4 linked regions of the Homo sapiens genome follow. The protein of the gene in region 4 interacts with the protein of the main gene of each other region in a pairwise test. Each region holds a gene or a part of one and is shown on either strand. Other genes may lie near its edges. The genes, in order: ODF4, HERPUD2, RAMP1 and MS4A13.

The links.
Region 1: the proteins of MS4A13 (region 4) and ODF4 interact in binary tests that used the Homo sapiens proteins (3 or more experiments, as listed by UniProt).
Region 2: the proteins of MS4A13 (region 4) and HERPUD2 interact in binary tests that used the Homo sapiens proteins (3 or more experiments, as listed by UniProt).
Region 3: the proteins of MS4A13 (region 4) and RAMP1 interact in binary tests that used the Homo sapiens proteins (3 or more experiments, as listed by UniProt).

The regions. Positions count from the first base shown.
Region 1 is NC_000017.11:8,335,131-8,342,845, forward strand, and holds the start of ODF4 (outer dense fiber protein 4), read left to right. Parts: upstream 1-4,709; 5' UTR 4,710-4,921; coding exon 4,922-5,375; intron 5,376-7,715. UniProt on the Homo sapiens protein: Component of the outer dense fibers (ODF) of spermatozoa which could be involved in sperm tail structure, sperm movement and general organization of cellular cytoskeleton.
Region 2 is NC_000007.14:35,664,122-35,671,146, reverse strand, and holds part of HERPUD2 (homocysteine-responsive endoplasmic reticulum-resident ubiquitin-like domain member 2 protein), read left to right. Parts: intron 1-818; coding exon 819-932; intron 933-3,558; coding exon 3,559-3,713; intron 3,714-7,025. UniProt on the Homo sapiens protein: Could be involved in the unfolded protein response (UPR) pathway.
Region 3 is NC_000002.12:237,862,609-237,869,633, reverse strand, and holds part of RAMP1 (receptor activity-modifying protein 1 isoform 1 precursor), read right to left. Parts: intron 1-7,025. UniProt on the Homo sapiens protein: Accessory protein that interacts with and modulates the function of G-protein coupled receptors including calcitonin gene-related peptide type 1 receptor (CALCRL) and calcitonin receptor (CALCR). Required for the transport of CALCRL to the plasma membrane.
Region 4 is NC_000011.10:60,518,369-60,525,393, reverse strand, and holds part of MS4A13 (membrane-spanning 4-domains subfamily A member 13), read right to left. Parts: intron 1,498-7,025; coding exon 1,441-1,497; intron 188-1,440; coding exon 68-187; intron 1-67. UniProt on the Homo sapiens protein: May be involved in signal transduction as a component of a multimeric receptor complex.

The sequences.
Region 1 (7,715 bases), on a different chromosome or scaffold from region 4:
CTTATACATTGTGACTATATAAATATCTTTTGTTGCAGAGCTAGTAATCACTTAGATTACATTTCCTTTCTTGAACTATTTGTAATTACCTTCTGAAAGACAATGTTTGATACATTCACAAGATATTATGAAATCTATGTTAGCTGTAAATGATTATAATATAATAAATACCTGGCCAGGCACAGTGGCTTGTGCGTGTAATCCCAGCACGAGCTGTAATCCCAGGCCAAGGCAGGAAGATCGCTTGAGCCCAGGTGCACCACCACACCTGTAGTCCCAGCTACTTGGGAGGCTGAAGTGGGAGGATTGCTTGAGCTCAGGAGTTCAGCTATGATAGTGTCACTGCACTCCAGCCTAGGTGACAGAGCGAGATTTGTCTCAAAAAAAAAAAAAAAAAAAAAAAAAAAAAAAGAATATGCCTGCACCTATCACCCAACTCAGGAACTAGACTCTTATTAATAATGCATATGTGCTCGTGTAACATTCCTCATCTCACTCCTATGCCTTCTTGAGAAGTAACCATCATATGATATTTCATGTTTACTGTGCCACTGCTTTTTAAAAACTACCATGCAATCATAAGCTTACATAAGCTTAAACAATGCATTGGTTGTTGAGCTTGGTTATAGGCTCTATAAAAATGGCATCATATGTACTGTGTAGTCTTCTGGGGGTTACATTTTTCAGGAAACATTCTATTTCCAAGATTCTTCTGTGTTGTGTGTTGCTGTGAGAAATGCTTATTATTAAAAACCCTTAGAAACTCCAGGAAAAAGCTGGGTGCAGTGGCTGATGCCTGTAATCCCAGCACTTTGGGAGGCCGAGGCGGGTGAATCACGAGGTCAGGAGTTTGAGACCCACCTGGCCAACGTGGTGAAAGCCCGTCTCTACTAAAAATACAAAAAATTAGCTGGGCGTGGTGGCGGGCACCTGTAATCCCAGCTACTTGGGAGGCTGAGGCAGGACAATTGCTTGAACCGGTGGGGGCACAGGTTGCAGTGAGCTGAGATCACACCACTGCACTCCAGCCTGGGGGACAGAGTGAGACTCCGTCTCAAAAAAAAAAAAAAAAAAAAAGAAACTCCAGGAAAAACTTAAAAACTAAAGAGGATTCGAGGGAGGAAGCCCAATCCTGACGACACTGGCTCTGTGTAAATGACATTCCCAGCAGGCCCACCACCCCCTCTCCCAGTGTTCTCCCCTCCTTCTCCCATCTTCAAGATTCTGTCTTCTGGCTGGGTGTGGTGGCTCATGCCTGTAATCCCAGCACTTTGGGAGGCCGAGGCGGGCAGATCACGAGGTCAGGAGATCGAGACCATCCTAGCTAACACGGTGAAACCCCATCTCTACTAAAAATACAAAAAATTAGCCAGGCGTGGTGGTGGGCACCTGTAGTCCCAGCTACTCGGGAGGCTGAGGCAGGAGAATGGCATGAACCCGGGAGGCGGAGCTTGCACCACTGCACTCCAGCCTGGACGACAGAGTGAGACCCTGTCTCAAAAAAAAAAAAAAAAAAGATTCTGTCTTCTGACCCAGTGCCCCAACTGTAGCTGCTTGTTCTAAGGATGACACTCGTCCCTGGCAGGGCCAGAGAATGCTTGGACTTGGGACTGAGAGGTCTCCCCTCCAGCAGCTGGAGGGGTCTGATACACAGCTTGGAGTGTGAGGGCCATGTTTCCCACCATGTGGACCAGAGCAGAGGAAGAGGCTGGTCTGCAGAGACAGAGGAAGACGCCCAGGGAGGGGCAGAGACCACAGCCAGAAGAAGCGCCCTCACAGGCTTTGAATTTCAACTTTCAACCATTCCTGAGGTCCCACTGCACAGGTGACATCAGGATTCATAGTTCACTCTCCTTTTGCTTACAAGGAGAGTTAATTTGGAGAGTTAATCTGTTCCATGATTTGCAGATGCCACTGACTGGCAAGGATGCTTGCCAGGAATTATCTTCTGCATTTTTGCTCTTTCCCTGTTTGCTAGTGAAAGACTGTAAAAACAATTAAAATGATAATTTAACAACATAATTACCAGTTGCTGGGAATTTACTATGAACTAGTGAGTGCTTTTTGATCATTATCTCATTCAGCACTCTTACCAAGTCTATGAGAAAAATATTGTTCCTGTGTTACAGATGAGTAAACTGAGGCATAAGGAAGCTATATGACATCCAGGTTCACAGGGCTATTAAGAGGAAGACCCGGCTGCATGTGGTGGCACACACCTGTAATCCCAAGACTTTGGGAGGCTGAGACAGGTGGATCACCTGAGGTCAGGAGTTTGAGACCGGCCTGACTGACATGGTGAAATCCTGTCTCTACAAAATACAAAACATTAGCTGGGCGTGGTGGCTCATTCCTGTAATCCCAGCTACTTGGGAGGCTGAGGCAGGAGAATTGCTTGAACCCAGGAGGCGGAAGTTGCAGTTAGCTGACCAAGATGGCGCCATTGCACTCTAGCCTGGGCAACAAGAGTGAAATCCCATCTCAAAAAAAAAAAAAAAAAAAGGCGGGGAAGACCCATTTTTCATACCTTTGCCTGTTGGACCCCAAAGCCTATGTTCTTTTTTTTTAGACAGAGACTCCTTCTGGCCTGAGTGATGAAGGAAGACTGTCTCAATAAATAAATACATAAATAAATAAAATTATAACAATCTCAGAAGGCATGACACCTCTAGGACCCATTCTCATCCTACATCCTCCTCTTTCTGGTGCTGAGAAAAAAAAGAAAGGAAAAAGAAAAGTCAAAAGAAGAGGGAAGGAACTGGTGGTGATTGACTAGCAGTGAGTAGAGCTGGGAGGGAGGTGAAGGGTTGGGGAAAGCAATGGGAAGCTCGATGACATCTTTGCAAGACATGTCCAAAGAACAATGGAGGGAGGATCTTTTCCTGGGGATAAGCTCCTGCTCCCTCCCCCTGCTCCATCAGTGAGCATTTGGGGTTGGGGTTAGGGCAGAGGAACTAGGAAGAGAAAAGGGGACTGTCCTAGTCCATTTTGTGTTGCTATAACAGAATACCTGAGGGTGAATAATTTATAAAGAAAAAAGGGCTATTTGGCTCACAATTCTGATGGCCAGAAAGCTCAAGATTGGGCATCTGTTGAGGACGTCAGGCTGCTTTCACTTATGGTGGAGGCAAGGGGGAGCTGGCTTGTGCAGAGATCACAAGGTAAGGGAGGAGCTGAAACTGTGCCCCAAACAGTTAAATAAACCAGTGATTAACAGACATTTTCGAGTTTACAGGATGGCAGCTAAGAAACAGCTTGCTGAAATGCTGAAAAATCCCTTTGCTTATAACAGGACTGGCTGAAATCAGTGGGAACCCGTATGGCTGACAGCAATCCGCACAGAACGAGCTTGCTGATGTCACAGCCTGAATTTCCACCTGCTGTTTCATACTAACGCCACCAAATTTGCACATGCAACCCACGAAGAACCTTGGAGATAACCAGACATGATTAAGGACTTTCTAGACTTCTCCTTTCTTTCCACCAATCACCCGCTAATCCCAGAATCCTCCCCCTAAACCTTTTCTAATAAAAGTACTGCCTTAAGACCAGCAAAGAGAGACAGATTTGAGCTGGATTCCCGTATCCTCGTGGGTCAGCTCACAATAAAGCTTTCCTTTTCTCAAAACCTAGTGCCCTAGTATTGGAGTATTGGCTTCTATGCACATCTGGCAGCGAGCACTTTTGCTTGGTAACAGCGCCAGGTTCTTTTTAACAACCAGCTATTGCGGGGAGCTAATGGAGTGAGGTCTCAGGGAAGGCGTTAATCCAATCACAAGGCATCTGCCCCCATGACCCAAACACCACCCACTAGGCCCTCTCACCTCCCATCACCACCACACTGGGGAGCAAATTTCAGCATGAGGTTTGGTGAAGACAAATTAACCATATGCAGACCACAGGAGGGCCTCTCACATACCATTGCTCATATGTAAAGGGAGGCAGAAGCTGGAGGGAGGTGTCAGATCCACAGTTCTGAGCTGTGGCCTGAGAAACAGGATTTCCGGAAAGAGTTAGAGCTGGAGCCACAGGCCAGGCAAGGTGGCTCACACCTGTAATCCCAGTGCTTTGGGAGGCCAAGTGGGGAGGATCTCATGAGGCCAGGAGTTTTTTTTTTTTTTTTTTGAGGCTGAGTTTCACTCTTGTTGCCCAGGCTGGAGTGCAATGGTGCGATCTCGGCTCACCGCAACCTCCGCCTCCCAGGTTCAAGCAATTCTCCTGCCTCAGCCTCCTGAGTAGCTGGGACTACAGGCATGTGCTACCACGCCCAGCTAATTTTGTATTTTTAGTAGAGATGGGGTTTCTCCATGTTGGTCAAGATGGTCTCGAACTCCCGACCTCAGGTGATCCACCCACCTCGGCCTCCCAAAGTGCAGTGATTACAGGCGTGAGCCACCGTGCCTGGCAGAGGCCAGGAGTTTGAGACCAGGCTGGGTAACATATCAAGACCCCATCTCTACAAACAATTGAAAAATTAGCCAGGCATGCTGGCACAATCCTGTAATCCCAGCTACTCAGGAGGCTGAGGTGGGAGGATCACTTGAACCCAGGAGTTCAAGGTTGCAGTGAGCCAAGGTTGTGCCACTGCATCCCAGCCTGGGCAATAGAGGGAGACCCTGTCTCTCTCTCTAAAAAAAAAAAAAAAAAAAAAAAAAATTGCTGAAGACTTGGCTTCCCTCCCCCATCTCACTGTGCCCCAGGAAAATTCCGTGGCAGTTAGGGGACCTGGCCTGCTGAATGGGTTGGGGCCTTCTCTTGGATCAAGAGTCTCTTATTTGATCGAGGTCTGTTATTAGACTTCCTCATTCTTTCTCAGACCTCAGGCTGCATGGTGGCAGCTGATGAAAATATCCAAAAGATGAGAAGAGACAATTGAGTCTGGTGAGGGAAAGGGGAGACAGAGGGTGAAGTGGTGCTCAAGATGGATGCAGAGTACTCTGGGAATGAGTTCCCCAGGTCAGAAGGAGAAAGAGACCAACATCAGAGACCTGGAAAGGAAAGGAAGAGTGGGGAGGCAGGATGGGGCACAGGTGAGCTGGGACAAGATGGGAGACTGCTGTCCTCCACCCTCTCCCTCAGTAGTAACAGGTCCTTGGGCCAGCGCCAGAACTCTCCGCTGCCCTTTCAATGGAGAATCACACACAGCTTCCGCTGGATGGCCCAGGTGTTGGCCTCTGAGCTCAGCCTGGTTGCCTTTATCCTACTATTGGTCGTGGCCTTCTCCAAGAAATGGCTGGACCTCTCTAGGAGCCTCTTCTACCAGCGCTGGCCCGTGGATGTCAGCAACAGAATCCACACATCAGCCCACGTTATGTCCATGGGGCTCCTGCACTTTTACAAATCCAGGAGCTGTTCTGACTTAGAGAATGGGAAAGGTGAGCCCCTCCACCCCCCATCCCAGCCCAGGCCGCCAGCCTGTCTTGGCCTCTGTATCTGCACCCTGGATGTATTCTTGTTCCCTCTTTCTGGTCATCTTTACTTTTTGGCCTGCAAGATGGTTCCACTGGCACTGAGACCTCCGATGATCGTTTCTCATCCTGTAGCCTGGCTAAATAGATTTGATTGGTGCAATGGAAAATGTCACTGCTTTTGATAAAACCCAGAGCCAAATCTGTGCTTCTAAGAATGCTGTGAGAGAGTTGGGCATGGTGCTGCACACCTGTAGTCTCAGCTATCCAGGAGGCTGAGGTGGGAGGATTGCTTGGGCCCAAGAATTTGAGTCCAGCCTGGGCAATTTAGTGAGACTCCTGTCTCAAAAAAAAAAAAAAAAAAATCAGGCTGGGCACTGCGTCTCACACCTGTAATCCCAGCACTTTGGGAGGCCAAAGCAGGCAGATCACCTAAGGTTGGGAGATCGAGACCATCCTGGCTAACATAGTGAAACCCCGTCTCTACTAAAAATACAAAAAATTAGCCAGGCGTGGTGGCACATGCCCGTAATCCCAGCTACTCTGGAGACTGAGGCAGGAGAATTGCTTGAACCCGGGAGGTGGAGGTTGCGGTGAGCCGAGACCGCACCATTGCACTCCAGCCTGGGCAACAAGAGTAAAACTCTGTCTCAAAAAAAAAAAAAAGTTACGAGGGGCATGGACTCAGCACAAGAGAATCATTCATTAATCGCCTAATTTACCAGGGACAAGAGCCCCAGTGAGATGGGGGTTTCCTTAGTCTTGTGTACCCAGAGCTTTGAGAGGACTCCTTGCAATGTCCCCTCTCAGGCCCTGATCCCACACATTCTCCTTTCCTTCTGCCTCAGGCCTTGCTTTTCTGGATCATTTTCCTTTTTCCACATCTGGCTTCTGTGTTCCTTCTTTCCCTGAATTCTTGCAGCTGCTTCATTCCTCATCCTTGTTTTTTTCTGTTTGTTTCGCTGATTTTTTTAGAGACAAGGTCTCACTCTGTCACCCAGGCTGGAGTACAGTGGTGCAATCATAGCTCACTGCAGCCTCGAACTTCCAGGCTCAAGGGATCCTCCTGCTTTAACTTCCGGAGAAGCTCAGACTACAGGCCGTGGCCACCACACCTGGTTCTTATTGTTGTTAGTCTCTGGTTATGCTGTTCCCTCACCCCTCAGGAATTTGGAGTTCTTTCCCTGCTCCTGGGGAAAACCAGAGCTTTTGACCCTTATTTCCATTTTTTCACTCTCCTTAGCATGAAAAAAATCACACAGCTATTATTTTCTGAAAGTATTATGTCCTTATCATATGAATATGAAAATATTCATATAATGAATTATGAAAGCATTATGAAAATATTATGTCCTTATTATAATAAATTTGGGGAAACAAAAGCTATCCTTTATTGTACACTTACTCCATTTGTTCAATTTAGTCCTTAGTCAATCCTAAGGGATAGGGATAATTATCCCTATTTTAGAGATGAGAAAATTGGGACTCAGAGAGATTAAGTACCTTGCTCAGGGTCATAAAGCTATTTAGATTGAACCAAATGACATGCTAATATTTGACTGCTTTTCACCTACAAAAGGAGAATTTCACATGGATCAACCTAATAATGGCAGGGTTGGAATTGCAACTCAGGTGTGCCTGGCTCTAAAACTCACATAGGCGCCTTGCTCTACGGAGTTACTCAAAGACAGCCAGGCTTTTTATTTTTATTTATTTATTTATTTGAGACAGAGTCTTGCTTTGTTGCCCAGGCTGGAATGCAGTTGCGGTCTCAGGTCACTGCAACCTCTGCCTCCCGGTTTCAAGCGATTATCCTGCCTCAGCCTCCCAAGTAGATGGGATTACAGGCGCCCACCACCATGCCCAGCTAATTTTTGTATTTTTAGTAGAGACGGAGTTTCACCATGTTGGCCAGGCTGGTTTTGAACTCCTGACCTCAGATGATCCGCCTGCCTCGGCCTCCCAAAGTGCCTCGGCTCACGGATTACAGGCGTGAGCCACCGCATCCGGCCAAACATCACTGATTTTTAAAATTTATTTAATTAGGATTAGGTGTGTATAAACAGTGAAAATTCAAAGAATACAAAAGATTGTATACTGAAGTGAGTCTGTTATCTCTTAGTATCCAGTCTCCCTCCCTAGTTTCTCCTGTTTCTTTCCAGAGACACTCTATTCAGAGACAAGCATCTATTTTTATTTTTATTTTGAGACAGTGTCTCACTCCGTCACCCAGGATGGACTGCAGTGGTGTGATTGTAGTTTATTGCACTGCAGCCTCAAACTGCTGGGCCCAAGTGATCCTCCCAC
Region 2 (7,025 bases), on a different chromosome or scaffold from region 4:
GTTTCTAGTAGCTTTGTTTCCCTTTCTCCCCATTTGGTTATCTTTCTTTCTGCTCCTTTTTCTTTGTCATTCTGTTCTTTTCTTTTTAAAAAACTAGCTGACTCATCCTTCATTGTTCTCTGTCCTCCTTTATTCCTTCTTTCCTTTCCCCATCTTATTTGCTGGCTTTATGTCTAAGTATAAATAAATATGCTTATGATCTCACTAAGCTAAAATGCCAACCCTAATCGTTATTTGGAATATTTTTCTTCAGTCATATTTCTAGGTTTATGGAAAAACATGGGATATTTACAGAATATAGTTTAAATGTATGCTTTATATCTGCGTATAGGTGTTATAGATAAAAATAGTTTTTGACTGAAAAAAAGAGTAAAAAAAATCACCTTGCTAAAATTAAGGCAAATGTGATTATGATGAAGTTATTTGAGTTTATTTTATAGTTGCTAAGCCTCAAGTGATGGAAATATGTAAACTGTAAAAAGTTTAAGGTGCTAGATGTTTTCATGCTGAAATTATAGATTGTGCTGTTACAACTTTCACAACATTGTTTGCTTTAAGACTGCTTCGTATGCAAAATAATTTTTTAACCCAGCAATTGCAGAGTATTTAGATCATTTTCCAAGTATGGAGAAAATATTGAATTCAAAAGGATCACAAATAAAATGACAAATTTACCTTCAAATGATAACAATTTATCAGTAATTAAATGGCTAGGCTCGAAAGGGACCTAAGTTTTAGGTATTTCAGTTTAGCTACTGACTTTTTGAACTGTACATTTTGTAGTACTACCCTTTAAATGTAATCTTCTTTAATTTTAGCAAGATGAGTATCATATGGTTCATCTAGTATGTACTTCTCGGACTCCTCCCAGTTCTCCAAAATCCAGCACCAATAGAGAAAGTCATGAAGCATTGGCATCCAGCAGCAATTCTGTGAGTTGTTTTGGGAGGAGTAAACATTGAACTTTTCTTTTTTTTTCGTCGTCGTCTTATTTTTTGCCTCTAAAAACTAAATGAAAAACAGAACAATTGGAGCTTGTGAATTTTGAGATTGTGTTTTGAACTAAAGTTAGGCATTTTGTAAAGTTTACCATTTTGAAAGATCTAATACGCAGTGTTATCCCTTGAAGTCTATTCACCTTGAGTTATAATTTGCTGTATGGCAGGTCAGTAATAGATTTAATCTTCAAAGGTTTAATTACTGGAATACTCAGAAAACGGAATTATGTTACGGTTATATAATATAAACTCTTAGGCCAATGACGTTTCAGAAATATGCCAGGTATTTAAAATAGTATATTTTATTCAAGGTGGATTAAATTGTTTAAAATTTAAGTACCCTAAATCTTCTTGAAGTAGATGACTTGGTCAAGGATTTTGTTTTTTAAAAATGACTGGATTTGGGTGTACATTCCACCTGCTTGGGGAGGAAATACTTAATGTATTAATCTCTTTCAGACTTGGGTATTCATTCCTCCATCCTTATTTTTCCATCTGCCTAAAATTGTTTTGGAAATGTTTTGTAATAGTTGACCTTCTCAATTTAGACATTTTCTACAAATTTCAAAAACATTGTCCCCAATCCTTTTATGTTATTTTTGATTTCCCATAAAAGCTTTCTATGACACCTTTGCAGGTGAGAGGATTGGATGAGTGGAAGCTTGCTTTCAACTTCTTGAGCAGTCAGGGAACTTTTCTACTGCTAAGTATGCTTTCCTTGTCAAGACTCCAGCCAAAGCTTGAAAGAGAGCACAAGTGACAGGGGTGGGAGCTAGTTGAAAACTCTCTCAATAGATACTAGTTAACTGCTTCTTTAAGAAACTAGCTTCTCCAGTTGCTGTATTTAATTTGTATTCTCTTAATGGTAACTATTTCCTAGTACCAGCCATGGGAATTTAGCTTACATTAAACTAAATAAAATATGCCTTGTCAAAACACCCAAGGGTCTTTGTATGTTTCCTGCCTTGGCATGGAAAGGCACAGACATTGGCATTGGCACAGAGTTTTTTTTTGTAGTCGTCGGACACAGTTGCATTGCTTCAATTTTTGTTGGGAAAGAACCCTCTGACTTTGACTTGTCCAGTGGGTTGCTCAGCCATGATTTTGTGTCATTAGTGTGTATATTTGTTTTTTTCAGTGTTATGAAAGCCTGAAAAGTATCAAAGGAATGTTAAGTTGAATTCACCTTAATTTTTCATGGTTCAGAAATTTCAAGGGACTTGAAAATATTTTAAAGATCTAATCATAAAATAATTACCTAATAAGGTCAGAAATCATTAGTTCTAGAGAAATTAGGTTGTGCTGCCAAATGACTAGGCTTTTCTTCTAATAATTGTATTAATGAACACCGTATTATGATGGCCCATTTAATGAGAAATCTTGCTGAAAAAGAAACCTTTCCCAGTTTATGTTCCTAAGAATCCGGACTCCTTAGTAAGATATTTGATATCTATTGTGTGTGAAGTAACATTTTAAAAGTTTTTGTTAGTCTTGCAAAAGACTGGTGTGGACTGTTTTGCAAAAGACAGTTTTGGACCTTTCACATTGCAGGACTTAGCATGGGAGTCATGCAAAAAGACATCCTGTCAATAGGAAGGCAGTACGGGTAAAATACAATTTAACAAAATTGTTAAAGGAAGGATGTTAAAATAATACTGTACCTAGCTTTTTAAAGTGGAAGAACTATAATTTATGTAAAATGTAATTGTGTTTTAAATGTACATGAAACACTTGACAAACTATTTTCAAACAAATTGGGATGGTCTTCAGGGAGTTATATTGTTTATGGTTACTGAATCCATGAGCACGAGAATAAAAAGATTTGAGCATGAGAATAAAAAAATACTGATTAACATCTTGATTCTCGTAGTTCATTTTGTAAAAAAGCAATATTTGTTGGTGATTTCTATAAACTAATAGAATTCTAGAACTGAAAGGAATCTTGAAAATTTAGTCCAATCTCATTTTCTGTAGGAAAGTGGAAACTCTGAGAGGTTAAGTGAACCTTTAAGGTTATAACTCTTGTTAATGTCAGAGATAACACTAGATTTTAGATCTTTTGATTTCTAGGATTTCTAGCCTGTTTCTCATTACTTTAAATCAATATGTTAACAATAGCATGTTGTACAGTACTTGGCACATAGTAACTGTTTAAATGACTCAGTAATTAGTACCATTTATTGAACACTTTCAATAAATGTATGTGTTAGGCATCATGAAAGGAGCTTTGCATGCATTAATTTAATCATGTGAAAAGAGCTTTTTATGCATTAACTTAATCCTCAGAATTTAATATGCTGTTTTTGTATATTATTATTCTGCTCCTCGGCCATTTCTAGTTGAAAAAATGGAATATTTTAGTTTAATTAAGCAGTTTTGATAAGTTTTGACGTACTAAAATTAAAATATCTACTTATACTGGACACACGATGTAAAACAGTAAATTTCTGAAATGTTATTTTGCAGAGGGATTTCATGAATACGTTTTTAGTAATGTGCCTGTAATTTTATGATTGTAAAGAACTAAATCTCCTTTTAAAAATTACATTTTTATTTGTAGAGTTCAGATCATTCAGGATCAACAACTCCATCATCTGGTCAAGAAACCTTGTCTTTAGCTGTGGGTTCTTCCTCAGAAGGATTGAGGCAGCGTACCCTTCCACAAGCACAAACTGACCAAGCACAGAGTCACCAGTTTCCATATGTAATGCAAGGGTAAGTGAAATTGTGGTAGCTATGGAATGTGATTGGGGCCCCCTAAAAATGAATTGCTTTTGAGTTTCACTATAGCCTCTTTGCAGTAATTAAAGTACATTTTAAATTTATTCATATATTTGATTTTGTATTTTGAGAACTAGAGGGTTAAGAAGAGCACTGCTTTTCAAACCTGGCTGCACATGAGAATCATGTAGGGCAGTGCTTTCAATCTTGAATGTTTGTCCTAATCACCGGGAGACCTTGTTGAGCTGCAGGTTTGTATTCAATAGGTATGATGGGGCCTGAGAATCTGCATTTCTGACAAGCTCCCAGATGATGCTAATGCTTCTGATGTTTGGACTACACTTTGAATAGCAAGGATCTACGTAACTAATTTTTTTTTACTCAGTCTCACTATAGATCTACTCAATTTAGTGTTTAGGGGAATGTGGTTGAGTGAAGGTATACTTGAAAGAGTACAGAGCCCAGCAATCTGTTTTTAAAAGTTTTTAAACGTTCCACAAGTGTTTCTAATCAACTTGGTAACAACTGTGCTAGAGTAAAACCATGATGTATTACAGGGATATGCTAATCTTGCTGCATGTTGTCCAGAATCTTTGTTGTATTGAGAGTTTTATAAAGCAGTTTTCTTAAGAAGCTTGCCATAGTCACCCTATATTTAGCAATTACAGCAGGCCCCTTGGGTTAGGCACTTCCAGAGGAAATGCAGCCACAGGTAAAGCAGCTTAGAGAGTAGGATCTTGGAGAACATGGTTTGGACCAGGGTTGTGTGTGAAAGCAGACTGTTTTACTGGGGTATTATTGTTTGTTATTTTTGAGGTAAAGGAAGCTTGAGTAACAGATAGTGATAATTTCTGTGTTGCGTATCAAGCCATGGGGCTGCAGTGTGTGGCACTGGTCTGGATCCATGATGATGGAGCTAGAAATGAGAATATGGCTAGGACCTCAGAATTGTAATGTAGGTGGTGTAACCAAGGAGTAGCTATTGACTGCTGTGCTCAACAGGACGGCATAAACACTCAGGTACTTTTTACTTAGAACTTTAAACTTAATTCAGTTATTAATACAGAAAAACAAAGCTGAATATATAGCAAATAGAAGAGAACTAATTTGTCTCAGATTTCTTAAATGTGAAGCCTTTTCTTTCAAAATAAATGTTTAGATGAGGCTGGTTGTAGACTTTCATAAAGTACCTGTGAAACTATTTTTGTTTTCAGAAAGTGATTACTATTAATATAAACCAAGATTTACTTGTAAAAAGCAGTGTTCTCAGGGTTTATATTATGGAACAGTAGCTTCAAATACTTTGTCTTATGACAGTAATTCACTTCCTTTCTTTTTCACAGAGTAAGTTCCTCTCAGTTTATACAGAGTGATTTTACTTATTTTATTTGGTGGTAGTGGTGGAAGGTGGGAGTATTATAAATAAGCCTGGAAAAATATATAGTGCCACATTAATAGTGGTTATCTCTGGATAAAATTTATAACTCTTTCTCTTACTTACAGTGAATATATTTTGTAATAAACAAATCAAGCTTATAAGATTACAGGTCTTCAGAATAAGACCATAGATACATTGGTAAAAGATTAATAATTTCTCTAAACTAGGCTATTGAGAAAATTAATAAACATAAAAGACAAAAGCATTCAGCTCTTCGAAGTATATTAAGCTGATTAGAAAAATCTGAAATAGGTGGCGCCAAGATGGCCGAATAGGAACAGCTCCAGTCTGCAGCTCCCAGCATGAACGATGCAGAAGATGGGCGATTTCTGCATTTCCAACTGAGGTACCAGGTTCATCTCACTGGGGCTTGCCAGACAAATAGGTGCAGCCCATGGAGCAGGGCGGGGCATCGCCTCACCTGGGAAGCGCAAGGGGTCGGGGAATTCCCTTTACTACAAAAGGGAAGCCGTGAGAGACTGCACCTGGAAAATCGGGATACTCCCACCCTAATACTGCACTTTTCCAATGGCCTTAGCAAACGGCTCACCAGGAGATTATATCCCGCGCCTGGCTCAGAGGGTCCCATGCCCAAGGAGCCCTGCTCATTGCTAGCACAGCAGTCTGAGATCAAACTGCAAGGCGACAGCAAGGCTGAGGGAGGGGCATCTGCCATTGCCGAGGCTCGAGTACATAAACAAAGTGGCCAGGAAGCTCGAACTGGGTGGAGCCCACCTCAGCTCAAGGAGGCCTCCCTGCCTCTGTAGACTCCACCTCTAGGGGCAGGGCATAGCTGAACAGAAGGCAGCAGAAACTTCTGCAGACTTAAATGTCCCTGTGTGACAGCTTTGAAGAGAGTAGTGGTTCTCCCAGCACTGAGTTTGAGATCTGAGAACAGACAGACTGCCTCCTCAAGTGGGTCCCTGACCCCCGAGTAGCCTAACTGGGAGGCATCTCCCAGTAGGGGGGCGACTGGCACTTCATAAGGCTGGGTGCCCCTCTGAGATGAAGCTTCCAGAGGAAGGATTAGGCAGCAACATGAGCTCCTTGCCAGCAGCGGAACAAAGCTGTATGGAGAATGACTTTGACGAGTCGAGAGAAGGCGGCTTCAGACAATCGGTAATAACAAACTTCTCCCAGCTAAAGGAGGATGTTTGAACCCATCACAAAGAAGCTTAAAAACCTTGAAAAAAGAGTAGACAAATGGCTAACGAGAATAAACAGCATAGATAAGTCCATAAATGACCTGATGGAGCTGAAAACCATGGCACAAGAACTACGTGATGCATGCACAAGCTTCAGTAGCTGATTTGATTAAATGGAAGAAAGGGTATCAGTGATTGAAGATCAAATGAATGAAATGAAGTGAGAAGAGAAGTTTAGAGAAAAAAGAGTAAAAAGAAATGAACAAAGCCTCCAAGAAATATGGGACTATGTGAGAAGACCAAATCTACATCTGATTGGTGTACCTGAAAGTGATGGGGAGAATGCAACCAAGTTGGAAAGCACTCTTCAGGATATCATCCAGGAGAACTTCCCCAACCTAGTGAGGCAGGCCAACATTCAAATTCAGGAAATACAGAGAACACCACAAAGATACTCCTCGAGAATAGCAATTCCAAGACACATAATTGTCAGATTCACCAAAGTTGAAATGAAGAAAAAAATGTTAAGGGCAGCCAGAGAGAAAGGTCTCATTACCCACAAAGGGAAACCCATCAGACTAATAGCTGATCTCTCGGCAGAAACTCTACAAGCCAGAAGAGAGTGGGGGCCAATATTCAATATTCTTAAAAGAATTTTCAACCCAGAATTTCATATTCAGCCAAACTCAGCTTCATAAGTGACGGAGAAATAAAATCCTTTAC
Region 3 (7,025 bases), on a different chromosome or scaffold from region 4:
CATAACAGTGGAATATTATTTGGCCTTCAAAAGGAAGGAAATTCTGATTCACACTACGACATGGAAGAACCTTAAGTGAAATGAGCCAGTCACAAATGCTGTATGATTCCACTAATACAGGTTCCTAGAGTAGTCAGAGACAGAAAGTAGAATCGTGGGTCCCAGGGGCTGGGGGAGGTGGTAAATCAGCAGGGGGTTAGTGTTTAACTGGGACAGAGTTTCAGTTTTGCAAAATGAAAAAACTTCTAGGGATGGATAGTGGCGATGGTTGTACAGCAGCGTGAGTGTGCTTAGTGGCATAGAACTGTACACTTAAAAATAGGTAAGATGGTACATTTTATGTGGTGTATACTTTACCGCAATTAAAATTAAAAAAGCAATGACTGGGACAGAGCTATAAGAAGTCACCATGCAGCTGTGACTGGCAGGGTCACATATGGAATTCCCCATCCTCTCCCCTGCGTGAACACGCAGCAACACGTGCCCAGGGAAAGCAGGCAGGATCACAAACGCAGTGCAGGGTTTTCACACAATGCGCATGGATGGAGAAGATGAAAATAGGGATACGGAGGCCCTAAGTATTAAATTTAATATGATGACCGGGATGGATACATAAAAACGCCACACTCCTCCCACGGGCTTACGGGCCATTTACAACACGAAAAATTTGTAAGACCAAGAAAGAACCCGCAATGCACACTAAGTCATGGTTGTGGTTCCCGCTCTGCCCCCGACCACAGTGCAATAAAACTAGCAATGAGTATCGGGAGAGAAACCAAAAAGCCGGAGCCCCTGAGATTTGTAAAAACTTGCTTCCAAACAATTCACGTGCTAAAGAGGAAACAGAAACCACAAATACAGAGAATCCAGAAAATATCAACCATGAGCACAAGGCAGAGGCAAACTCAGGGGATCCAGCCAAGCTGCCAAGCAGAGAACCGATGACGTTTCATTCCCACGCCAGCAAAGAACAAAAAGAAATGCGTTAGGCATTCAAGAAAAAGTGTAGAGTAAGTAAACTCAGGAACTGTTTTTTTTTTTTTGTTTTTTTTTTTTGGTGGGGGGAGGGAATCAGTGGGGAAGAGACCAATCACAGATTAACCACTGTCCATTCTGATCAAGAAATAACATGAAAATACAAATTCACAAAATTGCACTAAAAAGGACAGATGTTCACAGATGTAGAGGGAATTAGAAAAATAATTGTTCACATAATGATATGTGGATAAAATGAACAACTTCAGAGGAAAATGTAAAACAACATCACTGCTACAAGACACAGAAAACCCCAGCCAGGCACAGTGGCTCATGCCTGTAATCCCAGCACTTTGAGAGGCTGAGGTGGGTGGATCACCGAAGGCCAGGAGTTCGAGAGCAGCCTGGCCAACATGGTGAAACCCTATCTCTACTAAAAATACAAAAATTAGCTGGACATGGTGGCAGGCACCAGTAATCCCAGCTACCTGAGAGACTGAGGCAGGAGAATCACTTGAACTTGGGAGGTGGAGGTTGCAGTGAGCTGACATCGCTCCACTGCACTCCAGCCTGGGCGACAGAGCAAGACTCCATCCAAAAAAAAAAAAAAAAGACAGAAAACCCAAGGGGACCAATTAACACCAGAAAGATACTGAAAAGGTTGCCAATTTTCTACACCATGAAAAGGAGCCTGGCCCCGGTGGTTTTGCAGGTGAAAATGAAGACCCTCTAGATCTTCAAGGAACTGCTTATTTCCATCATCCTGACTATCCTAGCACACAGGGAAAGAATAAGGGTCCACAACCTGTATCTTGGGAAGAAAACCCAATGCTGGTAATAAAACTCCCAAGGTAAAGTACAGAGCAAGCTCACTCAGGAAGAACGAAGCCACACTCAGAACAAACAGTGGCCAACAGACACCTGAGACTGCCGAAAGGCTGCACAGGAATGAGGAAACGCTCCATTCATCCCAGAAACACGGTAGGTTCGCAGCCTCTGACCACTTCTCCTGTGTCACAGCCTCGCCAGTGCCAGCGGCCTGCCAGCACTGAGACAATGTCCAGCTGGGCAGGTTGTTGTGTCACATCGAACGGTTCTTCCTTCACAGGACAAAAGCTTACTTTACACACGGGAAGAAGATGCATTCTCCATCCCTCTCCCACCCCCACCCCCACAAAAATACAATAAAAAAGCATCTGGCCCCAAAGGAGAAAGACAGAAGGTTTAAGGTGTTAACTCTTGACCACATGGCTCTGAACTGTGTGGATCACCTACATGAAGCTTTTCTTCTGCCGCTGCCGCCACTGAGACAGCAAGACCAACCCCTCCTCTTGCTCCTCCTTCTTGGCCTCCTCAACATGAAGACCTTAGGATGATCCACTTACACTTAATGAAAAGTATATATATTTTCTGTGGGTTTTTTTGAGATGGGATCTCACTCTATTGCCCACGCTGGATTGCAGTGGTGTGATCTTGGTTCATTGCAACCTCCACCCCCTGGACTCAAGCGATCCTCCCACCTTGGCCTCCCAAAATGCAAGGATTACAGGCGTGAGATACCATGCTGGGTCTAATTTTCTTAATAACACTTTCTTTTCTCTAGCTTACTTCATTATAAGAATACAGTATAGGCTGGGCACAGTGGCTCACGCCTGTAATCCCAGCACTTCGGGAAGCCAAGATGCATGGATCACTTGAGGTTGGGAGTTTGAGACCAGCCTGGCCAAGATAGTGAAACCCCGTCTCTACCAAAAATACAAAAATTTGCCGGGCATGGTAGCGGGCACCTATAATCTGAGCTACTGGGGAGGCTGAGGCAGGAGAAACACTTGAACCCGGGAGTTGGAGGTTGTGGTGAGCCAAGATCGCACCACTGTACTACAGCCTGGGCAAAAGAGGGAGACTCAGTCTCAAAAAAAGAAAAAAAAAAAAGAATACAGTATACATACATGTAACATACAAAATATGGGTTAACTCACAGATAATGTTATCAGTAAGGCCTCTGCTCAATAGTAGGCTGTCGTTAAGCTTTGGGGGAGTCAAGAGCTACACTCGAATTTCTGACCATGTGGGGGTTCGGCGCCCCACCCCTGCGTTGTTCAAGGGTCACTTGTATTGCCATCGCCAGCAGCAAAGGAAGGCAGCTGCTGTCACTCCCCTACTCAGCAGTGAGTCACTCTCCAACACAGTACGACTGGAGAACAAAACAGGGAAAATTGTTAAGAGGTGGTAGGACCACCCTAGGTTACGGGTGACCTTATGACTGGCCTGAAGAACCAAGCAGGAAGCAAAAAAACTAAAATAAAAAACAGGCACAGGGTGACAACAGTCACAAAAGAAACACACAGAAGAGGAGCTTCCTCTTAGCCCAGCGATGACCAGCTAGAAAATAAAATGGGGGAAAATATCCCACTCTCGGTAGTGGCCACAGAGCACCGGATTCCTAGACACTGAATGAGTCATCTGCAGGAGAAATGAGATCTCTGTGGAAGGGCCTGGATGCAGACGTGGGGGTGGAGGAACAGACTGCTGTTTCTCGAGCCGGTGGTCTTGATGTAATCCTCCCTGACCAGTTAATACATTCAGTGCAATTACCATGAAAATCCCCCAAATATTGAGCCATTGATAAAAATTGCTAGGAAATTAAGGTAAATTCCAGATGCATCAAAGGTTTGTGTGTTTAGAACCATAAGGCACTGGAGGAAACCTACACAGGCATGCTCTCTGGTTTCACCTCCTCGCTGCCTCCTAAGGGCAGCTTTCGCCGCTGCCTCTCCTGCAAAGGACCCTGCCATCTGCCTCCCTCCACCACCAATCATGTCAAGGTGCCCAGTGGTGCCTGGGGCCCGTTTCCTTCTCTGTCCTCCCTGGCCGTCCTCTCTGGCCTCTCACAAGGAGCCTGGGCCTGTTTCTACCCACTCTCACCGGTCACCCCTCCAAGCAAGGATTTGACATAGGCCAGGCCCTGCTGCCGCCAGAAACACCTCTCTTGGCCATACCTCTTTCTGAACCCTTGATTTGCATAGACTCCTGTCTACGTACCATCACCCCTCAGAATCCAAGGGGAACGCTGAACCCCATGTGGCTGCTGAGGACGGGGCTGCCAGGTGCAGCAAATGACAGGAGGCCCTGCGAAATCTGCATCTCAGAGAAACGGTGGTTTTTGAGGCATGTTCCCGATACTGTATGAGACAGGCTTATGCTTCTTGTTTATCTGAAATTCCAGTTTGCCTGGGGCTCCCATGTTTCCTGGCAGCCCTGGCTGTGGCCTGGGGTGTCATCTCCCCTCCCCTGCACTCTCCTCTCTACTCCCCTGCCCTCCCCTCCCCTCCTCTCTTCTCCCCTGCCCTCCCCTCCTCTCCTCTCCCCTGCTCTCCCCTCCCCTCCTCTCCTCTCTTCTCCCCTGCCCTGCCCTCCCTACTCCCCCAGGAGCTCTGCCAGGTGCTGTTCTTCATTCCTCAGCGCTGCCTCACTTCCTGCATCCAGGCCCAGGGACTGGAGTCCATCACTTTCGCCTCCAGGACTCCCTGGAACCCTCCCACTCCTATCCTTGCCTGGCCTCCTGCCCATGCTGGGGGCCACAGCTGAGGGCTCCTTTAAACCACACCTTCTGTCCTGTCACCCCCTTTAATGTCCTTCAAGGTTTTCCCACTGCCCTAGGAATGAGATCTGAATGCTTAGAGAATGGGTCTTTCCTCCAGCACCAGCTTCGGCTCAAAGCCCTCTTCCCCACCATGCTTCAGTCAAAAAGGCTTCCAGGAACTTCCAAAGCAGGGCCTTTGCACAACCGTCCTTGCCCTCTGCCCTCTGGACTGTGCTGCCGCTGCTCCTCAGGGCTGTGCTCCGTGGTCTCCTGTTTATTTCCTGCTGCATTTAAGTAGCACCACATGTCTACATGGTTGACATGCAGCAGGGCTGCCCCACCCTGGCACTATGGACATTTGGTGTGGGATCATCCTCTGGGGGAGCTGCCCTGGGTTGTGTAGGACACCCTACTGTAGCAGGCTGCTCTGCACCCCTGTCCTTTGCCCCCTCCGAGTCCTGACCCTGGGTGTCCCACGTGTGTGAGAGTCCTGACCCTGTGTGTCCCGTGTGTGAGGTGGCAGATGGGTGTTTCCAGGAGAAACGGTGCAGCGCTTTCCCGGCATTCCCTCATCCATCCACCTCCCCCGCTTCCCTCTCACAACTGTCTCCTCCAGAGGCAAGAAAATCCCTGCAGAGAGAGCCACCCCGGGTGTCAGTCACCAAGTGTCCATTGAAGAGGCAATGCTTTCTAGGCTTCTTCCCCTCCCGGCCTGGGGCCAGGGTACCTGACAGCGGCAGGCCTTACGAAGCAAACACGCGCATGGTTGGGCAAATCACTGACTTTTCTCCTCCCAGGTGGTGTCAGACTCAAGACAGTCCTTCCTGAGACTCGTGTGGGGATACGTGGTCCGGGAGAACAGGGGGCAGGGCTTCCTGGGCAAGCTGTACCCCACCCCCTGGAGTGAGCTGGCCCAGGCCACGGGCCAGGTCACTCTGCCTCCCCTCCTGCCCCCGTGGTTTCCCAGAACTCTCAGCTAATTCAGGAGCTGCTTCCCCGGAGCCAAGGCCTGGGGGCCTGAACATGGCATGTGTGGGGGTGACACTAACGTACCCTGAGGGTCTGCTGGGGGCACAGAGGAAGACCCCCTGTCCCTGGGGTGGTGGGTGGGGTGGGGGTTCTGGGAGGCTGGGCAGTTGTCCCCGTGAGGGGTGGAGGTGGTGCTGACCCTGGCGGAGGGCACAGTGGACAGCCGGGGCCTGGGGTTTTGGGATTCTGGTTCTCGGTCCCAGAGAATCCACCATGTGACTGCACATGGGAGGGAGTGAAGCACTCTCGGAGCACGGGGAGGAGTCACCGAGAGAGCTGAGAACGTAGAGTCGGGGGGCCTGTGACTCAGGCCCATAGCCCTGCACTCCTGCCACATCTGGCTAGTGTGTCCCCCTGGACCCTGCTCCAACAAAGCCACCCAGAAGCCGTGATTTAAAAGATGGTTAAAGTGATGCCTTTCGGATGCCCCAGAAATTACTGAAATAAACCATCTTAGGAAAAAAATATTTTTCCTGAACAGAATAACATCATTCGGTGAAGTGAGTACGATTTTGTTTGGGCTGGGAGCCCTCCTATGGTGGCCGTGTTGACGCATCCTCCTCACTAAGGAGAAACAGGTCCTCCAGGAACATCACCCAGCTGAGAGTCCTCCTGTTCTGGAGCAGAGAGGACTGGGGACAAGGACATCCCTCCAGGGCTTCATATGTCTGCTGTGGGATGTGTCAGAGGTAGGCAGGGGGTATGGCAGGCTGGGAACTGAACAGTGCCCTGGCAGCACCGTCTCTGCCTCTTCATTTGCCACCAAGAAACTGGTGGGCTGGGGCAGTGGGCACATGGTCCAGCAAGTGCTGGAGCCACCAGGGCCACTGTAGCCCGGGCTCCCCTGTCCCCTTCCCAGCTCCCACTGTCTTCCTGGCTGCAGCACCTCTTCTTTCAGGAGGCCTCCCTGGGTCCCCAGTGGAGGAGGAGGCTCTTGGGCAGGATTCCCACAGTCCCCCAGGTACGCCATTCTCGGAGCCCCCTGAGCCTGCCGTCCCTGCAAGGGACAGACACCCATCTCAAACGTTATGGGTCACATGATGGAAATGTGTACCCCATGAGCTCGATCTAGGGGCTCAAAAGGCTTCAGGAGTGCTCTATGTCATGGACAGGTACTCCCCCATGGCTCACAGGGTAGACTGTGGCAGCCCCACTCAGATCCAGCCTGGAGGAAAGACGCAGCTTTTCCCCGTGGTTCCAGCAGAACACTGACTGTCCAGCCTGCGGCCAGTCTCCTCCCTGGGACCATCTGGATGGCCAGGCCTGGCTCAGAGACCACTGAGGGCCAGCCCACCATACCACAAAGACCGTCAGGAAAGAGGGGTTCTAGGCCTGAGTTGGGGGTGGGGGCACTGGCAGGGGCACTGGCAGGCAAGCCCGAGGGGCTTCACTCTCTGGGCTCAGCATTTCCGCTGGAATTCACACTACACATGGCACC
Region 4 (7,025 bases):
AAGATTTCAAAATTATTAAAAAGAATAATTTTAAAATTAATATGTTCCCATAGAATTGGTCACTTACTGCTTGTCCATAATTCCTGTATGACACAGAATTAAAATGAGACAACTCTATTATTGTTAGAGTTACTGCAGTAATTGTAGTAATTATGCAGATGATGTTTATGATTAAAGTACTTATAATCTGAAAAGGAGACAGAGGGCAAATTTATTATATTCAGAATAAACATTTTGGTGTAATAGTTTGCATTGCTGAAAAAACTCATCTAGTTAAAACTTTGATCTAGTTTCTGAAGTCTTAGAAGTATTAAATATTAAGAAAATATTTTTCTGATTTATATGAAGCCCAGTTAATCTGGAGGAAACATTAACACCATCAGTCCATTAATCATTAATCTTCCATTTAGGCTAAAACATATTGTATTTTTTGGGGCCGGGCGCAGTGGCTCACGCCTGTAATCCCAGCACTTTGGGAGGCCGAGACGGGTGGATCACGAGGTCAGGAGATCGAGACCATCCTGGCTAACACGGTGAAACCCCATCTCTAGTAAAAATACAAAAAAATTAGCCGGGCTTGGTGGCGGGCACCTGTAGGCCCAGCTACTTGGGAGGCTGAGGCAGAATGGTGTAAACCCAGGAGGCAGAGCTTGCAGTGAGCCGAGATTGTGCCACTGCACTCCAGCCTGGGTGAGAGAGAGAGACTCCATCTCAAAAAAAAAAAAAAAAAAGTATTGTGTTTTTCAATGTTATAGGTCATTTGGAAGAAAGCATATAAGATATGATTTGGACAAAAGTGGTTCCACTGTAAGAAAAAAAAAAAAGTGGAAAATGACTGCTTGTAGAAATAGGAGTCAGTTGATAAAATTTTAATCCTGGGTTTTCATTATCTAAGGAAATCTATCAGTATCTTCAGACATCATTTTTTTATCTGTAAAATTATGAGGGCAGACTAATTTCTAAGGTACGTTTTAGCTCTAAGATTCTAAAGTGTTCTTCCCAATTCTATCCACCTATACCATGCATGGATCTTTAATCTGGACCAATTCTGTACTTTGTTACAGGACACAATCTTGTTCCCAAACTGGATAGTTCAGAAAATGAAGTTTTACAGTAGTATAATGTCTATATCTAAAGGCATTAGGTCCTATTAAAATTTTTTAATTATAAAGTTTACACAATGTTAAAAGGCAGAACATCAAACAAAACAAAAACTATATATACATTTAGAAACCTATACATAAAGTAATCATGATTTTAACCAATACAGTATATTTGTCTATATTAAATTATGTTCTTCTAGATTCATTCTTAATTCTTTCATTTACTTTACAGGTAGGGTAGATTCCTTCATTGTTTAGACGTTATATTTTCATTAAAACTTAATATTTAGCTTTGTGATAAGTGATTTCTAGAGATACCTCAAACATTTCAACTTACTCCAGATCGAGTCGGATACTTTGTTACTCTTATTAGGAAGACTCCTGCAATGATAAACTGGATATAAAAACATATTTATAAATACTCATTGATAATGCTTGCCAATTTAGAATGTACTTTTAATAACTCTCTTGTAAGTCAATTATTTTAAGAATGCTAATAGTAACAAAATATACAGAAGTTTTAGTAGATGGGTCAGGACAAATTTACATCATGTAGTAATACATTGAAAGGTAATAGTAGAGTCACTCATAACAGAGACACATAGGGGACAGTGGGCAGATTCACACTGTGATAATATGCCAGACAGCCTAAGCAGTCCTGACCGGGAACCAAGTTTGCTTTTATGTGTATGAGATACATCATATATAACTCATTTGATTATTGCTTTTAATGTTATCCTTCCTAATGAGATGATGACACTACTTATGATTACTATGTACATATCCAAATATGGAAAAAGTGGTTCAAGAATCTATTCCATATTGTGATGGTACAAAATATGCAGTCTCTTTTATGAGATTGTAGTCATTATTAAGGTAATGGCAGAAATTCATGCCTTTGCCTTTGTTTTTTAAAACAGAGGTTCCATTATTTCATGTCAGGAAGTCTGTCTACTTCCAAGAAGTATAAAACTATGCCATATTGTTTGAAGATGGGTTGCACAATTTCCTCAAAGTATTCCTTATTTGTTTTATTGATAAGACACTAAAGATCCAAGTCAAAGGCTATTTTTGTCATGCTATACACTATATGTAGGAAGCCCAAACCTGAAGCTTACAAACTTCCCATGGATAATTTTAAATCTATTTGTTCAGCACTTCATTCCACAACAAAAGCTGAGATTTCTAAGGAGGTACACAGTGAACGTAAGAACTAGCTCAGAATTTAAAGTGAAAATATCTTGTGAATTTTGAATTAGAGTGCTCTCTAATGAGATTATCTTTCGATTACTATGTGTTTTACAAAATGCCTTTCAAAGTTTAGGCTTAAGTGAGAAGTTTAGTATTAAATTACATTTAGTTGAAATTTTAGATAAGTTATCCTAGGAGTTTAATATACTATTTTTATAATATGAGTGGTCAAACACTAAGGAAAATGCATCATTTATTTGGATTTTGTTGGAAAATCCACAGTTTTTCTCCTCTTTTTTAAGGTAGTGCTTTGACACTTGTGACCCAGTGCATCATTTATCATTTATCACCTATGAACCAGTGCATTATTTATGAGCCATTCATCTTTTATGAACCATGTATCATTTATCTGGATTTTGTGCAAAAATTCAATATTTTTCTCCTATTTTTTCAAGGCAATCCATTGACACTTATGAATTAGTGTATGTATAAAAGTGGGAGACCTCCTAGAGATCATTGTTTCTTCTAGTGATTAATTGCTGTCTCAATGGGCAGCCATATTGTATCCTACAGCCCTCATTCCATCTGTTCGAAGTGTGGGATAAGTGGTTTCCTTGCTCATTATTGCTATCCAACCATTCTTTCTCCTCCACCTTTGAATCACATGTCAGTTTCTATAACTCACTATCCTTCATGGTTTAAGTAATCTATTGACCCCTTGGCCATTCCTCTTTTCGAATGAATTGAAATTTTGACTCTCTGATTCTCTCTCCAACATCACTTAATATTTGGTGATTTTTACACACACACACAAACACACACATACATATATATGTGTGTATATATCTATATATATACATCTATCTATCTATCTATCTATCTATCTATCTATCTATCTATCTGTCTGATCTTTTGATATGGTTTGGCTCTGTGTCCCCACCCAAATCTCATCTTGTAGCTTCCATAATTCCCATGTGTTGTGGGCGGGACCCAGTGGGAGATAATTGAATCATGGGAGCGGGTCCTTCCCATGCTGTTCTTGTGATAGTGAATAAGTCCTATGAGATCTGATGGTTTTAAAAATGGGAGTTTCCCTGCACAAGCCCTCTCTCTTTGCCTGCTGCCATTCATGTAAGATGTGACTTGCTCCTCCTTGCCTTCTGCCACAATTGTGAGGCCTTCCCAGCCATGAGAAACTGTAAGTCCAACAAACCTCTATCTTTTGTAAATTGCCCAGTCTCAGGTATGTCTTTATTAGCAGCATAAAAATGGACTATTACAATAAATTGGCACCAGGAGTGGGGTGCTGCTGAAAAGATACCCAAAAATTTGGAAGTGACTTTGGAACTGGGTAACAGGCAGATGTTAGGACAGTTTGGAGGACTTAGAAGAAGACAGGAAAATGTGGGAAAGTTTGGAACTCCCTAGAGACTTGTCAGATGGCTTTGACCAAAATGCCAATAATGATATGAAAAATGAAATCAAGGCTGAGGTGGTCTCAGATGGAAGATGAGGAATTTGTTGGGAATTAGAGCAAGGTGACTCTTGTTATGTTTTAGCAAAGAGACTGGTGGCATTTTTCCCTAGAGATTTGTGGAACTTTGAACTTGAGAGAGATGATTTAAGATATCTGGCAGAAGAAATGATCTAAGCAGCAAACCTTTCAAGAGGTGACTTGGATGCTGTTAAAGGCATTCAGTTTTATAAGGCAAGCACAGCATAAAAGTTCAAAAAAATTTACAGCCTGACAATGTGATAGAAAAGAAAAACCCATTTTCTGAGGAGAAATTTAAGCCAGCTGCAGAAATTTGCATAAGAAATGAGGAGCTGAATGTTAATTCTCAAGACAATGGGGAAAATGTCTCCAGGGCATGTCTGAGATCTTCATGGCAGCCCCTCCCATCACAGGCCCTGAAGCCTAGGAGGAAAAAGTGGTTTCATGGGCCGGGCCCAGGGCCCCTGTACTATGTGCAGCCTAGGGACTTGGTGCCCTGAATCCCAGCTGCTTCATCTGTGGCTGAAAGGGGCCAATGTAGAGCTTGGGCCATGGCCTCAGAGGGTGCGAGCCCCAAGCCTTGACAGTTTCCATGTGGTGTTGAGCCTGCGGGTACACAGAAGTCAAGAATTAAGGTTTTGGAACCTCTGCCTAGATTTCAGAGGATATATGGAACTGCCTGGATGCCCAGCGGAAGTTTGCTGCAGGGGCGGGGCCCTCATGGAGAACCTCTGCTAGGGCAGGGCAGAAGGGAAATGTGGGGTCGGAGCTGCCACACAGAGTCCCTACTGAGGCACTGCCTGGTGGAGCTGTGAGAAGAAGGCCACCATCCTCCAGACCCCAGAATGGTAGATCCTCTGACAGCTTGCACCGTGTGCCTGGAAAAGCTGCAGACAACGCCAGCCTGTGAAAACAGCCAGATCAGGGCTACACCATGTGAAGCCACAGGGGTAGAGCAGCCCAAGGCCATGGGAGCCCACCTCTTGCATCAGCATAACCTGGATGTGAGACATGGAGTCAAAGGAGATCATTTTTGAGCTTTAAGATTTGACTGCCCCACTGGATTTTAGACTTGCATGGGGCCTGTAGCCTTTGTTTCAACCAATTTCTCGCATTTGGAACAGCTGTATTTACTCAAGCCTGTACCCCCATTGTATCTAGGAAGTAACTAACTTGCTATTGATTTTACAGGCTCATAGGTGGAGAGGACCTTGCCTTGTCTCAGATGAGACTTTGGACTGTGGACTTTTGAGTTAATGCTGAAATGAGTTAAGACTTTGGGGGACAGTTGGGAAGGCATGATTGGTTTTGAAATGTGAAGACATGAAATTTAGGAGGGGCCAGGGGCAGAAAAACTCCCATTTCTTAAAACCATTAGATCTTGTGAGACTTATTCACTATCATGAGAACAGCATGGGAATGACTCGCCACCCCCCCAGCCTCATGATTCAGTTATCTTCCACCAGGTCCCTCCCACAATACTTGGGAATTATGGGAGCTATAAGATGAGATTTGGGTGGGGACACACAGCCAAACCATATCATCTTTCTATACCTTGGGCTTGTGGTTCTTGTTCTCTCCTCCAATCCCTGACTCCAAACTATCTTAGTCACTCACTCCCATAATCATTCTCTTGTCCTTGTTGTACCTTTCAAATCTTAATTTCAAGTATTCCACCTGATCATCACCTGCTATCTTTCTAGCTCATGCCCTCTAGTATTAAAATTCTAACAACCCTTTGACCCCACCTGGGTCTATAATCTGAGAACTTCAACTCTCTGTTAAATTCTTCTTTCCATCACTAACTTAAATTTCATGGCCAACCATTACAAACACTGCCCTATATCCACTTGCAATTGCTTTGCACCTTTCTTGTTTTATTATAGTTGCACAGCTAAACAAAGATCCTGATTGTTTTTATCCTACTGCATGGTTGCACTCATGCAGCTGAACATGGCCTGAGGAAGGCATACAACCCATATTCATATCCTGTTCCTAAACCTCAAGTATGTCCTTAATGCTGTGTGAAAATAAAACCACCTCTCCATAATCTGTGCACTCTCACTTTTCCTCGATGATTATTTCATATTCTCTTGCCTTTCCTCAAACAACCAAACCACTTCCCCATACTCAATCTCAGCTCATAATCTTGCTTCCTAATTCATTGAGCTATTTGAAGCTACTGGAAAAAAAAAAAAACTTCCACAGGCTTCCAACATCCTATCAAAGAAAACTCTCCTTTCTCTGCCTTTCCCTTCTGTTTTTGTACTTTGAAACCATTTATAATTAGACTGGATAATTCTTTGTTGTGAGGTGCTGTCCTGTGGATCACAGGCTATTTAGCAGCATCTTTTGCCCCTGCCCATCTGATGTACATCTCCAGCGGTGAAAATCCAAAATATCTCCAGATATTATAAAATGTTATCAGGGGCAAAATTGCCTCTAGCTGAGAACCATGCCCTAGATAAACTTTCTATGCTCCTAGCTATTTGTGCATCAAAATCCATCACCTCTTGCCTACACAAATACTTGATCCCAATACCCACCCCCATTTACTCATATCATCAATTTTCTTTCTTTTGGTTCAGTCCTCTCAACAAAGGATATGATGCTGTTTCTTTCAACTCACAGAAACTAATAAGCAAACCCTCTCTTGAGCCAAGTTTCCCCAGCTATCACCCCATTTCTTTATACCACATTACAGTAAAGTCCTTAAAGAAGCTCCTGTTTGCTGTCTGTAATTCCTCTCTTCCTATTTTTTTCTTAAATCAACTCCTACCAGGTTTTTGCTTCACAATTCCACTGAAACTACTTGTAAAATTTACTACTGACTTCCATATTGCTAAATCCAATGGTCAATTCGTAGTCCTCATTTTATTTGACAAAACAACAAAATATAATATAGTTGATCCTTCCTCATTTCTTCTAACAATTTCTTCACTTGGCTTCCAGGATATCATGCTCTCCAGGTTTTCCTCTACCTAATGGCTATCTAGAAACCACAGGAGAGTGTTAGTAATGAAAAATTTAGAAAATGAGTACTGACTCATTGGGTGAGGAGACTGAAGTGAAGATAATAAACATGCAAGTTAATCATGCTAATGGATATTATAGTTAAGATTCTTTGCCTTTCACATATCTAGGGACAAACTGCCCTATGGTTGTCATTGTGTACTCCTGTATCCATATCTCTTGAAACAGCACTTGTAAATTAAAGGTGCTCAATATATATTTGT